2 linked regions of the Homo sapiens genome follow. The protein of the gene in region 2 interacts with the protein of the main gene of each other region in a pairwise test. Each region holds a gene or a part of one and is shown on either strand. Other genes may lie near its edges.

Region 1 (7,291 bases), on a different chromosome or scaffold from region 2:
TACAGCTCCATAGGAGGCACCCATATCCCTTCTTGGTCATTCCACCCAACTTAGGGGATTCTGGAACTTCCATACTACCTGATTCAAGATAAAAGCAAAGGAAGTAATAGATTGTAAGGAGAGTATAAGAAACTGAATTTGGAAAAGTAGCACCTGAGACCTTTACTATGAGGTGGGCAAGCAGCTTTCTTTATATCTTTAAAACTAGTATATATTCTGTAGGTGTTCATATAAAAATTTAATCCAACTGATGCTTTATACTTGCCCTGTCATTGAGAAGTGGTTTTCTAGGTATCCTTTCACTTGGCTCTAGGTGATAATACTCACCATTTTTTACTCAAAGTCATTATATTTTTGCTACAAGATCTCCAAGGATTCCTATCACACACAGAGGTTAACACACACTGTAACAACAACGTGGTACAGCTATAATGTAGGATCTGCTGGGAAAAATAACTGACAAGCAGAGAAGATATAGAGTGCATGCAGTTCCCCAAATTCCATCCCAGCGTAGGCTGGGCTTAAATGTTCTGTGTGCACCATGGCAAAAGTTTCAGCGGCGTAGAAGGCCTGTTTGAGCCAGCAGGCTGGAGGTGCACAGACAATACAGCAAAAGGGAGAATGAGCTGTACTCTCCTCCCCCTCTCCACACACATACCATGTCACAAACTTACTAAGTTATCTAGAGGGGGCTAGGTAACTCCCAGTTTTTCTATTATCTAGGAGGGGACTAGGTAAATCCTAGTTTCTCTAAGTAACAATAAATATATCAAGGATCTCCAGGCCTAGGAACAATGCTGGCAGGCTGTGCCTGTGAAGGGCCAAGGTCTGCATGCTGCCACCTGGGAACAGCCTTCAAACAATGTCTCTCTAGGTGAGCCAGCTTTGGGCTAAACTGCCAAAGGAGAAAGGAAATGAGGAAATGAACCTTTACAACTATTCAACATTGTCTTTTATCAATCACTTTGTGCTTTTTTCAATTCCCATCAACAAAAATGAAGAAAATACAGACGAATAGAGTATTCTAATCTATTAGTTAGGCAAACTGATCATTTCAATCACTGTGTGTATTACTGTATCATAAGTTACCTTGAAATATGTCATGAGAACTGAGGGGGTGGGGAACAACACTCCATCAATATAATACAGAGTCCTCTAGAAAATCATCACATCCTACCAAACAAGACAGTAATATAATCGTTTAAAAAGGAATCAGTAAAAATTTCCTACCCACTGATATATGAGAAGGAAACAGATTTCACTAGTTCATCAAGGGAACTAGCAATTCTTAGGATTAAAGGGCAAAGGTAGGAATAAAAATCTGAGACTGTCCTCCCTTAATCAGTGGGGAAGGCAAAGGGAGGTGGAAGGGAAATGAACCTGGGCTGTAAACTCATCCATTTCAGCTTTGTGACTTTTTAGCAAGGTTTCTCAAGTTTTAAAATAGAGGTAATTTTACTTCCTTGCAGGGTTTCAGTGAACTTAAAAAGATAACATAAATATCACTGTAGCTGATTACTATCGTGTTACTGAAGAAAAGAGGGAAAAGATGTTCGATGGCTTGCTACTGAAGGTAAAACTAATTTAGTATTTAGATAAGACATGCTAATAATCTAAAAGGTACTCAGTTTCATATTCTGGTTATTGGTTTGTTTAACAAATACTTTCTAATCTCTACTCCCACTACTATTTTGGAGAATCATTTCAAGGCACTTAGATTTATAATCAAGTATTTTTTAAAAACTTGTCACAAAGTCTTTCAAAAGCATTTATAAAGCATTCTATGTAAAATTTAGAAATAGATTTAATTTTTGCCAACAGGCTTATGCCATATAACTAAAGTTAGAGGTGTAAATGTTATATTTTATCTGACTCCTTTCAAATCTAAATGACAGCTGAATATTAATATTAGTCACATTTACAGGTCTAGAAATTCAAATGTAGTGGGAAATACAAAAAAAATGTCTGTTTAGAGGTTTTAATTTAGCAAAGTGTTGAGTATTTTCAGATTAAAATTGTCTAAGTTAGGTACTAAGAAAAAAAGACAACTGTCATGAAAATCACAAATAGCTCCTTTCTTATTTGTTTGTATTCAACTCAATACACATTTACTTGGCACAAATAATTTACAAAGAACTGTACTAGATACAATGGGGAATATCAAGGTGAATAAAACTGTCCCTATTGCCAGGAAATAAATACTTACTTAGTATTTACATTCTTGATTTTAGAATGTTTATGTCTTCTGCCAACCAGTCAGAATTGCCTAGTTGCTGAGTAAAGTGCACAGTTTTCTACATTAAGGTGGACATGCAGGGTTGTTCCATTAGAAAGATGTTAAAAGGGACCAAATCTTATAGTAATTACTTGAATGCACATATTTGTAATTCCCCAGGATGTGCCTACAGTGACAATTCATTGCTGTCAGTGAAATATTTTTCCACTTGGAAAAGATTCCACACCGAGCTTCCACCTGAGGAAGTCAAAGTCTGAAAAGTCTGAGAGCCACTATTCAAAGGAGCTCACAAAACAAAAATGCTTAAGAGCTACTATACTATGGGAAGTCTTCTTCACTCAGCTGAGTATCTGGACGGTAGGAAACGATGTGTTATGCATTACGTAGACTCACTGCCTAGCAAGTTATCTGACAAACACTAGGAAAGAATTCTATATATGTGTATTTAATAACTCATGTGGCAAAGAGTAATAATCAGTATTAAACCAATTTACAGACAGATATGAAGTACTAAAGGAAATCAAGAACGTACTGAAATTAGAGAGCTCTAGATTGTCCATCAATTAAAATAAATAAACTCTTCTGAGAACTGATGGGGAAAGTCAGAAAAAAACAATAAATAAATAGAATAATTTGTAAGATTTGAAATGTTTTACAAACCTTTCCTGCTGCTTGTCGATCACTTTTAAAAATTACAGTCTCCTCATTAACTGGAGGTAGGTTAGTCATAGATTCAATTATTACTGAAAAATAAAATAGATTACTTCAAGATTTACTTATAAGAGAATGTAGAATTTTAATGAAAATCTAAGCTTTAATTCCAACATAATTTAAAAAAAAATTGAAGGTGGGATTATTACCTCATTAACCATTTTCTCTTCAGTAAACAAAGTCTACTTATTACCAAATAGCACTGGGAAATGTTTTTATACCTATTTTTAATACAAAAAGCTATAATTCTAAGGGAAAAAAATTAAAATGCAAATCCCACAGAAAATCTGAATCATCCATTAAAGATTCAACAAATTCAAGCTATGTACATATTCTCAAGTAATTTTTACCAAAAATAGTGTAATCACGTTTAGTTGTAAAACTGTTTTAGAAGAAATTAGTCTTCTTTCTCACTCTTAAAAATTCTTTTCTACAAAGCACTGTTTAGTTACTGGTATATGAAAAAGTTAAATAAAAGGCTTCACAAAAGCATCTTCCTATGAACAGAAGAAGTAAAAGTGCTAGAGCTCACAGTAATTTTTATCATTACATGAAAATTCCCTCCTCAAAAAGCAAAAACATAATCTCCAAATCTCCAGTTCTTTTAAATGACACAAATATTAAAGAACTGATCTACCATAACAAAGAGAAAACACACGCACACACAAACACACTCTCAATAAGTTTTTAGAACATCAGAGCCACAAGTAAGAACACTGTTACATTACATAGATAATACCATGTCAACTAAGGGAATAAAATATATTACCTCAGATTATCAAAATTAATTCAAACAATTTCTTTTGTATCTCAATTAATTTTAACAGTGGATACTTCAGGCTGGGCACGGTGGCTCACGCCTGCAGCACTCTGGGAGGCTGGCGAGGAAGGACGGCTTGAGCCCAGGAGTTTGAGACCAGCCTGGGCAACGTAGCAAGACCTTGTCTCTATTAAAAATCTCTATTAAAAATCTGCAACAGTAGCATGTGCTGATTTTGACCCATTTACTCTTTATTCCCATTAGGTTGAGAATTTTTTCAGTCTATGTTAGTCAAAATAGTATTGTTAAAAATGCAAAAATGACATGCATTATTCCATGTACGTCAGAGTTTACATTTATTTTTTTGAGGATCAACATTATGACCTAAAATTTTTCTGTATACATCAAGTCTAATAAATGTTTAAATCATACCACATAATCAAGAAATTAGTTGCCTGTTTGATTTATCTATATATATTATTAAATACCATAACTCTAAAACTAGTAAATGTAATGATTCCAGAATCACGGAAAGAATTTTAATTATTATTTTTGAAAAGAAGGTTCATTTTAATCTACATTTTTATTAATAAACTGAAAAAGTACAAAATTATGTAAGTGTTAATTTTTAAAAATATCAATATAGACACTGTTAGAAAAAAGTCAAAAGAAAAAGGTCCTATTTCTACCACTGACTCACTATACAACTGGTCCTAAGAGCAACTGACTTGAATTTTTCTGTTTCCTCAGGTCCTGTGGAGGCTGGTGGGCAATCTAGGTCCTCTTCACAGTTCCAAAATCCTATTACTTTGTCAGTGCTGAGTTCTATTCTCCAGCATATCCTACTACGAGTTAATAGTACCTATATTAACAAGAATCTCACAGAACAAACTCACATGTTGGGGCTAAAGAAGTCTAAAATATTAAGTTCTCTTATAACTCAGCAACTTCATATTTCATGCCATTAATAACAGTATTAAATTACAAAACTTTCTCACATGTTTTTAAGACAAAATCAAAGGTGGTGAGCAGAATGGCTCCCCAAGAGATATCCACACTCTAAATACCTGAATCTGTAAATACATTACATTTTTAAGAGCCTTTGCAGATGTGATTAAAGTTAAGGACCACGAGATAGGGGAGATTATCCTGGATTATGCAGGTAAACTCAATCTAAAAAGTCTTTAAAAGCAGAGAACCTTTCCACATGTGGTTAGAGTGAGGTGAGATAATGGAAGAAGGCTCAGAGACAGACGTTACATTACTGGCCTTCAGGATGAAGAAAGAGAGCCAAAAGTCAAGGAATGTGGGCAGGCTCTAGAACCCAAAAAGAGCAAGGAAGTAAGATTCTCCCCTAGTACCTACAGAAAATAACTCAGCCCTGTTAACACCTTTGATTTTAAGCCCACTGAGACCCACATGAGAACTGTATGATAAAATTGTGCTGCTGTAAGTCACTAAGTTTGCAGTAATTTGGTATAGCAACATTAGAAAACTAATAAACCAAATCAAAGGAAATTCCGGAGGAAGTATGTCAGTAAAAGCAGACATTTAAATTTCTATAAATAAACTGTATTTATATATAATTTTAGTATATGAAAACTGAATTTTATCCCTTCAAACTTAATGACTATAAAATAAAGTGTTAATTACGTATGTCAAAGAAAATTTACTAGTCATAAAAGTCATTGATTCAATTATTAGTGTGTGTTTGGAAACAATTTTTATTAATAGAATTCTTAACATACCTAGTTGTTCAATAATACTTGAAACCATCCCAAGAGGCTTTAACTCAATATCTTCAGGCAGAATAATAGTGAGTTCTTCAACAGAAGGCAGTTCCTATAATTTAAAACAAAACAAAACATTAAACTTCCTCCAGCTTCAACAACTTAAAAAAAATAAATTTTCCATTTTAAGTGCTACACATCTCTGAAAATGCTTTAAGTGCTTAGAGCATCTCTTTAATGTTATCATTTTAGTGGTTGCAGACTTGTGATAGCACTTCTCTCCCTCCAACATTTCTCCACCTAAGTGACTCAACAGGTCTCAAGTATACACCCCAAATTCAGTTAGACTAAGAACACAGACATAAGTACTATTCTACATTCTTTCAGTCACACTTGAACAAGAGACTACCTACTTCCTGTAAAAAAGGCTATTATCAGGCAGAGACATTCCATTTGAAAAGAAATAATTCTACTAGTAACTATAATTTCTCCACATAAGTTCTTTTAGCTGTCTTGTTAAATTGGTTAGTTAATTAGTTTGACTGTGATTAAACAGAACACAGAAGCAGCAATCTTTTCTGCGACTGTGTCAAGAAGAGTTGAATGGCCTCTTCAGGAAAAAGGAAATGACACCTATCAGTGAAACATTGAAGTCCTGAAAAAAGAATATAGGCTTTAGCCTATAAAAACTATGAAGGTGTTGCCTGATACCTTCTCTCTCTAGGTTAAAAAATAAGTTTCTTTACACCTAAAGATTTCTCTTTTCTTACCCACCTGCAAACTGCATCTCAGTTGCTATGGAAACTAGATATTGAAGTACAGATGAATCTGAAGAGAAATCTAAGAATAAATCTGACCTTAGCCTTTAGATTAAAAACACAGCTTTCTGTTCTTGACCCTTGCCAAATGATCTAACTCTCAGAAGGAAGCTTTTCCTCAAGATGGCTTGAAGTGCAAAGACCCTACCAATGGCATTTTAGCAGTTAAACTGGGAGAAGGATAACTTTTGGAGAAATGTTGGAAAAGGTGGGAAAACCTACATAACATGAAGTATACTGCAGACGAATGCATCCTGAGTAATCATATTACCCCTACGGAAACTTAAACTAGGTTCTTAAAATCATTCAACCAGAGTTGATAAGCAGACATCTAAAATACACTTTGTTTCTGGGATATGCTATTTTCTGATACAGGATTACTTATGGAGAGCAACACTACGGGTCTCAACCAACTGATGCAGAAGGAAGTCAGCAACATGCCTTTGTATGGTTAGTCTGCCTGGTGTTAGAGGAAATTATTTTGTTTTATCCATCAGAATTCTTATGAGTACTTTCAAAGAGAGAATAACCACTTGCCCTTTCATCATATTAAACGTGGAAAGCCTTATCTTGGGAAGACCATGGTTTGAAAATGGTTCATGTGTGTATCAGAATGCAGAAGGGAGTTTAGTTGTTAGAACAAACTGTGACATTAAATAGCCTTTTTACAGAAGTTCTTAGCTAAAGCAATCTCAAACCTTGTTAAATACAAGACTGGATAACTATAATTTTGGGGGACTGCAGAGAAGAGGGCTTTAATGATATTTCAGAGGGCAATTGTGAGGGGAGTTTCACATTGACTCGGGTTCTGGGAGTGGCTCCTCTTGTTAAGTGGCAAATGTCATTTGCTAATCCAGAAGTACAGTGATAAAATCTGTCCCATTACCTAGCCAAATTATAAGATCTAAAACAAAAATTTGAGTACTTTTGGATTGGGATAAAGCCTACTGGTTAAATATTCTCAAATAAACAAGTGCTATTTAACCAGCAGGAAAGGCCCCTGGTTTTGTATTTTCTATTATGAGAAATAAAGGCC
Region 2 (5,181 bases):
GTGTAAAATGACAGTAATAATCTCTTGCACATGGGGTGGTTGTAAAATAACGACCATCCAGTGCCCATCACAGTGCTGCCTGCACTGGGAGATAGTAGAATCCCCAGAGGCTGGGAGATTCCGAAGCAGTGGGACTCATACCCCCATCCCAGGTAGAACCCCAAGAAAGGAGCCAGATCCCAGAAGAAACAGGGTGGCATGGGGTGTCTAAGCGGCACCCCAGAGCTCCCTGTGCTTGACTGCGAAGTGGGAGCTGTGGAATGATGACCACAGGCCCCAGAGGGGGCCACAGGCCACAGAAAGGACCTCTATCAGCCCCTTAGTACAGGGCAAATGGAAGGAGCCCTGAGTGCCCAAGAGCAGAGAAGAGCCAGACACACAGAGACTCAGGATGGGCATCAAGGGAGCATGCAGGGGAAAGGCAGGAGGCAGGGCAAGATGATCGGAGGGCCCAATGCTGACCAGGACCATGGCGGGCATCGCAGGCCCAATGGCAGCATCCAGGTCCAGGAGTTCTGCAAGAAGCAACCCGTAACAATGTGTGCTGCTGGGTGGGCAGGGCGGGGAGGAGGGAAGAGAGCAGAGCACCAACAGAAAGGGGCAAAATCAAAATTAATACCGTTTAATTAAGTATCTACAAGACAGGACACAAGTCATAAACTGAACCCTTTAATGTGGAATGCAGGTAAATATTAATATGTATGATAGAGTGTGGGATTCAGCCTTTAAAATGCAAAGCTCCCTAAGGTCTTCAAATGTGCCATCCCCAAAAGTTCTACACATCCCTGGGGAAAGAAAGGGTCCCCAAATTGATGTGAGATTACACTTCTACCATGTGGGGAATGGGGGAGGAAAACAGAAATTCAGGTCAGATATAAAAAAAAATTAAGTTATGTTCCTCACTCATGTTCCTTTGTAAACGGAGCTCCTGAGTCACTGCAGCTGTCACCGTGCAGTGCCATCTTCAGACCCTTCATCCCTCAGGGCTGGGGGGACTCACCCTACCCTCTCACCCTTCACATTTCAGCCGTTGGGTTCACCAGCCTCCTATCCCTTCACTCATCTAGAGGGGAAATCTGCCTCCCCTTCTTCCTTTGGCCCTAAATGAGTTCATCAGTGTGACTCTAAGGAGTGATGGCAGGGAGCTGGGTTTGAGTCCAGCCCCGCCAGAGATTCCCTGTGTGAACCTAGGCAGGTCCCATCTTCCCTCTGGCCAAGTCTCAGTCTCTTTGTTGCGAAAGGGAATAAATGCTGCCTACTGGGGCTGCTGAGCAGATCCAGGCCACAGCTATGCGACACTACTTCTTAAACAGACTGCACTGCACTGGGGTTTGACCAACAAAACAAAACCAAACCAAAAGAAAAAAAAAGTTTGTGTTCAACTATGTTGAACAGAGCTGGGTTTCACAATCAGCCCTTCTGAGCTATGTCGGGGGGTGGTGAGGTTTGATTTTTCCCCATGGTCTTCCTACCAGGGCTCACCGTCTTCTCCTGCCCCAGCCAGTGGAGAGGGGAACCAGAGCCGAACTAGTGGGGAAGCAGGTTAGGGTGGGTGGGGGAGCTGAGCAGGCTTGGCTCCTGGAGGCCTGAGTCAGCGGGCAGGCGGGCAGGGCGGGCTGGGTCCTCACATGCTTGGGGAGGAGATGGTGCAGGAATGTTCCTCCCGCCCAGGCCTAGGCCCTGCCCACCGCATCCTGGCTCCGGCTCCCGTGGCCACTGCAGCTCAGCTCTAGCTTGAGAAGGGAGCTGCCTGGAGCTCTGCTGGATCGGTTCAGCCAGGGGCCTTCAGAGGCAGCCTGGCCCAGAGGATTGGCCCAGGGGAGGGCAGGGCCAGGAAACAGAGTCTGCCCAGAGCCAGGCTCTGGCCCCAGAGTATCCCCTGCCCTGCTGGGTGATAAGGCCAGCCACCACTGCTCCCTGGGCCTCAGGCGCCCATCTGTTCAATAAGGAGCTGAACTTGGTGGTATCCAGTCATCCCAATTGCATCCCTAGACCTCAGGCTGTGTGCCTGTATGTGGTGCTTGTGACTGGCTCTACTCCCCCTTGGAGACACCCCCTCCAGGGGTGGTGTCTCCAAGCAAAGCTCTCCTTAATCTCTGATGAGGTGGGGACCCTGGGAGGTCATGCAGGTGCAGTCCAGGCACAGAGATGCTTATGACACCTTTGCTCTGTGCAAGCATGGCTTTGTGGCGGTGTGTGCCCGAGTATGTGTCACTGTGTGAGGCTATGACCATGTGCATAGGACTGTGGTGTGGCTGTGTCTGACAAAGTAGCCACTGGTGCTTTGAATGGATGGCAAGGCATGTGTGGCTGTGGCTGTGAATGTGTAATAGCGTGTGGCAGTATGACTGTGTGAGCATACAGGCATGCTTATGTGGCGTATGTGCCTGTGGGCAGGTGTGTGACTGCGTGTGCTTGTTGTGAGACTGAGCGATTACATTCGTGAGTCTGTGAGTGTGTAGACACGTGGAAGACATATGGCTCTGTCATCTGGGAGGGGTGGTGCAGAGCAGGGGCCGATGGGGCCACCTGCCTCTCCCAGGCCTGGCTCTGCTCCAGCCAGTGGTGCAGCCACGGCACAGTGGTTCATAGCCCTCCTGTGTCCAGCGGGTGAAGAGATGCAGGATCTGAGGTCTGCTTCCATCCCCAGCCCCCATCTGTGGCCACAAAGCGGATTCCTTTTCCTGTACTGGGCCAAGACTGGTGACCAGGGGATCCCCTACCCCGGGTGCTGGTAGCTGTCCAGGGCAGAAAGAGAAGCCTTGTTTTCCACCCCCTCAGAGCAAAGTAAGGGAGGAAACGAGGCAGCTGGGTCCAGCCGAGTCGGGAACATCTGCCTGGCATGTGACGAGGCAGGAATCGGCCATCACCAGGATGCCCCCAACACTGGTCCCCCAATCTCCTGCTGAAAGGGGCTTAGCTACCCCAGAACGGCCCCAAGTTCCCCCAATACCCCCACCCCCATAGAGGCAGAAAGAAAAGAGAGAGGAGGGCCAGGACAGCCTCCCTCCCTGCCACACACACACCTGCCCCAGCCCAGAGACCTCAGGATACCAGGAGCAGGCCTGGCATTATCCCAAGACTCCACTTCCTGATGCTTCTCCTGGATCCAAGTCCCTCCTGAGAAAAGTATCAGACTGATGGCCTCACCCTGAGGATGGAAGGCCTGGGAGGTGGTCCCCTCTCAAGGAAGGCACACAGAGGACAACACTGTTCCCAGAGCAGGAAGCATGAGCAGGGGACTTTCCAGGCACCATGGGTTAGGAGGAGCATTCCCACCAGCCCTGCCTCGGCCTGGCCCAGCCCCCACTGCTCAGAGCCCCTTCTGCAGATGGCTACATGGATGGCAGAGCTGAGAAGAGGTTAAGGGCGGGAAGTTCCTCGGATGGGTTAGAAAATGGGGCAGGGTGGAGAGAGGGGAAAATTCCTCAGAAAGTCCCAAATCTGACCTAATGTTGACCAAGGGCCAGGGGGACCCATTCCAGAAGTTCCTCTGAGGACGCTATGCCCTGAACAGGGAGTCCTGCCCGCCCCTTCCCCCACCGCACCTGCTGGCCCTTCTCCATCTTCCTGCACAAGCTCCCTGGTCCCTGGTCTAGCCAACCTTCCCTGACGGCCTTGACCCTGGAAGCCCTCCCTCCACCAAGTCCCCATTGCCTCCAAAGGAGAGCCAAGTCTCAACCAGTACCCTCCTCTCATCTGTGGATGAACAGATCCAAGAGCAAGGTCCGCTCATCCTGATCAGGGCACCCCCAACAGCCAGCGTCCTCTTCAGTTTCCAATGTGGGAGCCTCCGCAGGGCTGGGTACCCAGGACGGTTTGGGGAAGAGACACAGCTTCTGAGTCCCCCACTTCCCTCCCCTGGACTAGGGCTTTTCAAGGGCAAGGCCAGGGCATGGCTCCTTGGGGAGAGGAGCCACCATCTATTAATTGTCCTAGGGCACAGCGTCCTGTCCCTTCCTCATACAACCCTCAGCCCCAGATCACAAGGCAGTACAGCCAGTCCCCTGGGCAGCACTCCACCTGTTTTAGAGACAAGAGTGCGTTCTAGGGAGGGATGGATCCACCCAGGGGTCCACAGCCGCCTCTAGCTCCTCCTGCCTGCTGGCACCTTCCACCAGCATAGCCCTCCCCTGAACTTTTGAGGTTCTGTGGAAAATTTGTGCCCACCACGACCTCAGAATCTCATCCAATGGCTCTCAGGAGCAATTAGGGCTCTATCCTTCTCCTGCCCTCCGCCTTTCTGGGATCCAAACAGAAAAAGTCATGCTTGTGTTATCTTAATTGTAAAAGGTTTATCAAGAAAAAAGATTCAAGGAGCAGCATCCAGGAGGAGACCATGACCCCCCCGGGGGCAAGGGGGGCAGTGGTGACACATGTCAGCACCCCACAGCAAGCTGCTGGACCACACCCTGACCTGGGTGGGGAGGAGGCAGAAACCCCTCGGGGATGTAAACATAGGTCAGAGACAGCACAACCTGACGGGGAGCAGGGGCCCACATTCCAGCGAGGCAGACAGAGGGCAGGTGGGCATGGAATCCCTCGCATGGCTGGGCAAGCAGGCCCCTGTCTTTTTCCTCTTAGGTTTCCCATTGTGCAACAGGAAGGATCTTGGGAAGACAGTGCCACAGAGCCCAAGGACCCTGAGATCCTGGGTTTGGACCTGCTTCGAGTGTGGGGAGTTATTGCTGGTGAACTCAAATATACAGTCACTTTTGAGAGTCTTCTCCAGGAAGGTGTCACCAGGGATCTGGGGCCCAGGGCTTATACCTCAGCACCTTGAGTCCGAGGAGGGGAGGATGCTGCAATGGTCCCCTGCCCGAGATAAGCTGAGGGCCCAAAAGTGGAGGGGAGTCAGAGGCCTACAGGAGGGAGATGGCCTGTAGCCCCCTCCTGCAGGGGACAGGGTGATGTACGGACAGCCAGCAACATGGGAGCAAGGGAGATCCCTTCCTACCACACAGGCCAGAATCCCCATGGAAAGCGTACCTAACTTGCTTGGAAAGTAAGGGAGAGAAGAGGGAGATGTTTGCATGCCTCCATAACTTTGCCCATGCTGTTCCTCTCCCCTGAAAGTCCTTCTCCCCCATGTACTGTCTGGCAGGCCCTTGTCATTCTTCAAAACACTGCCCAAATGTTGCCTACTCTATGGAGTCTTCCCTGACCAGTGGAATGCTGTGG

What was found.
Region 1: the proteins of SNX33 (region 2) and NAF1 interact in binary tests that used the Homo sapiens proteins (3 or more experiments, as listed by UniProt).

Annotation. Positions count from the first base shown.
Region 1 is NC_000004.12:163,142,886-163,150,176, forward strand, and holds part of NAF1 (H/ACA ribonucleoprotein complex non-core subunit NAF1), read right to left. Parts: intron 5,550-7,291; coding exon 5,456-5,549; intron 2,980-5,455; coding exon 2,897-2,979; intron 1-2,896. UniProt on the Homo sapiens protein: RNA-binding protein required for the maturation of box H/ACA snoRNPs complex and ribosome biogenesis.
Region 2 is NC_000015.10:75,657,727-75,662,907, reverse strand, and holds the end of SNX33 (sorting nexin-33), read right to left. Parts: 3' UTR 607-5,181; downstream 1-606. UniProt on the Homo sapiens protein: Plays a role in the reorganization of the cytoskeleton, endocytosis and cellular vesicle trafficking via its interactions with membranes, WASL, DNM1 and DNM2. Acts both during interphase and at the end of mitotic cell divisions.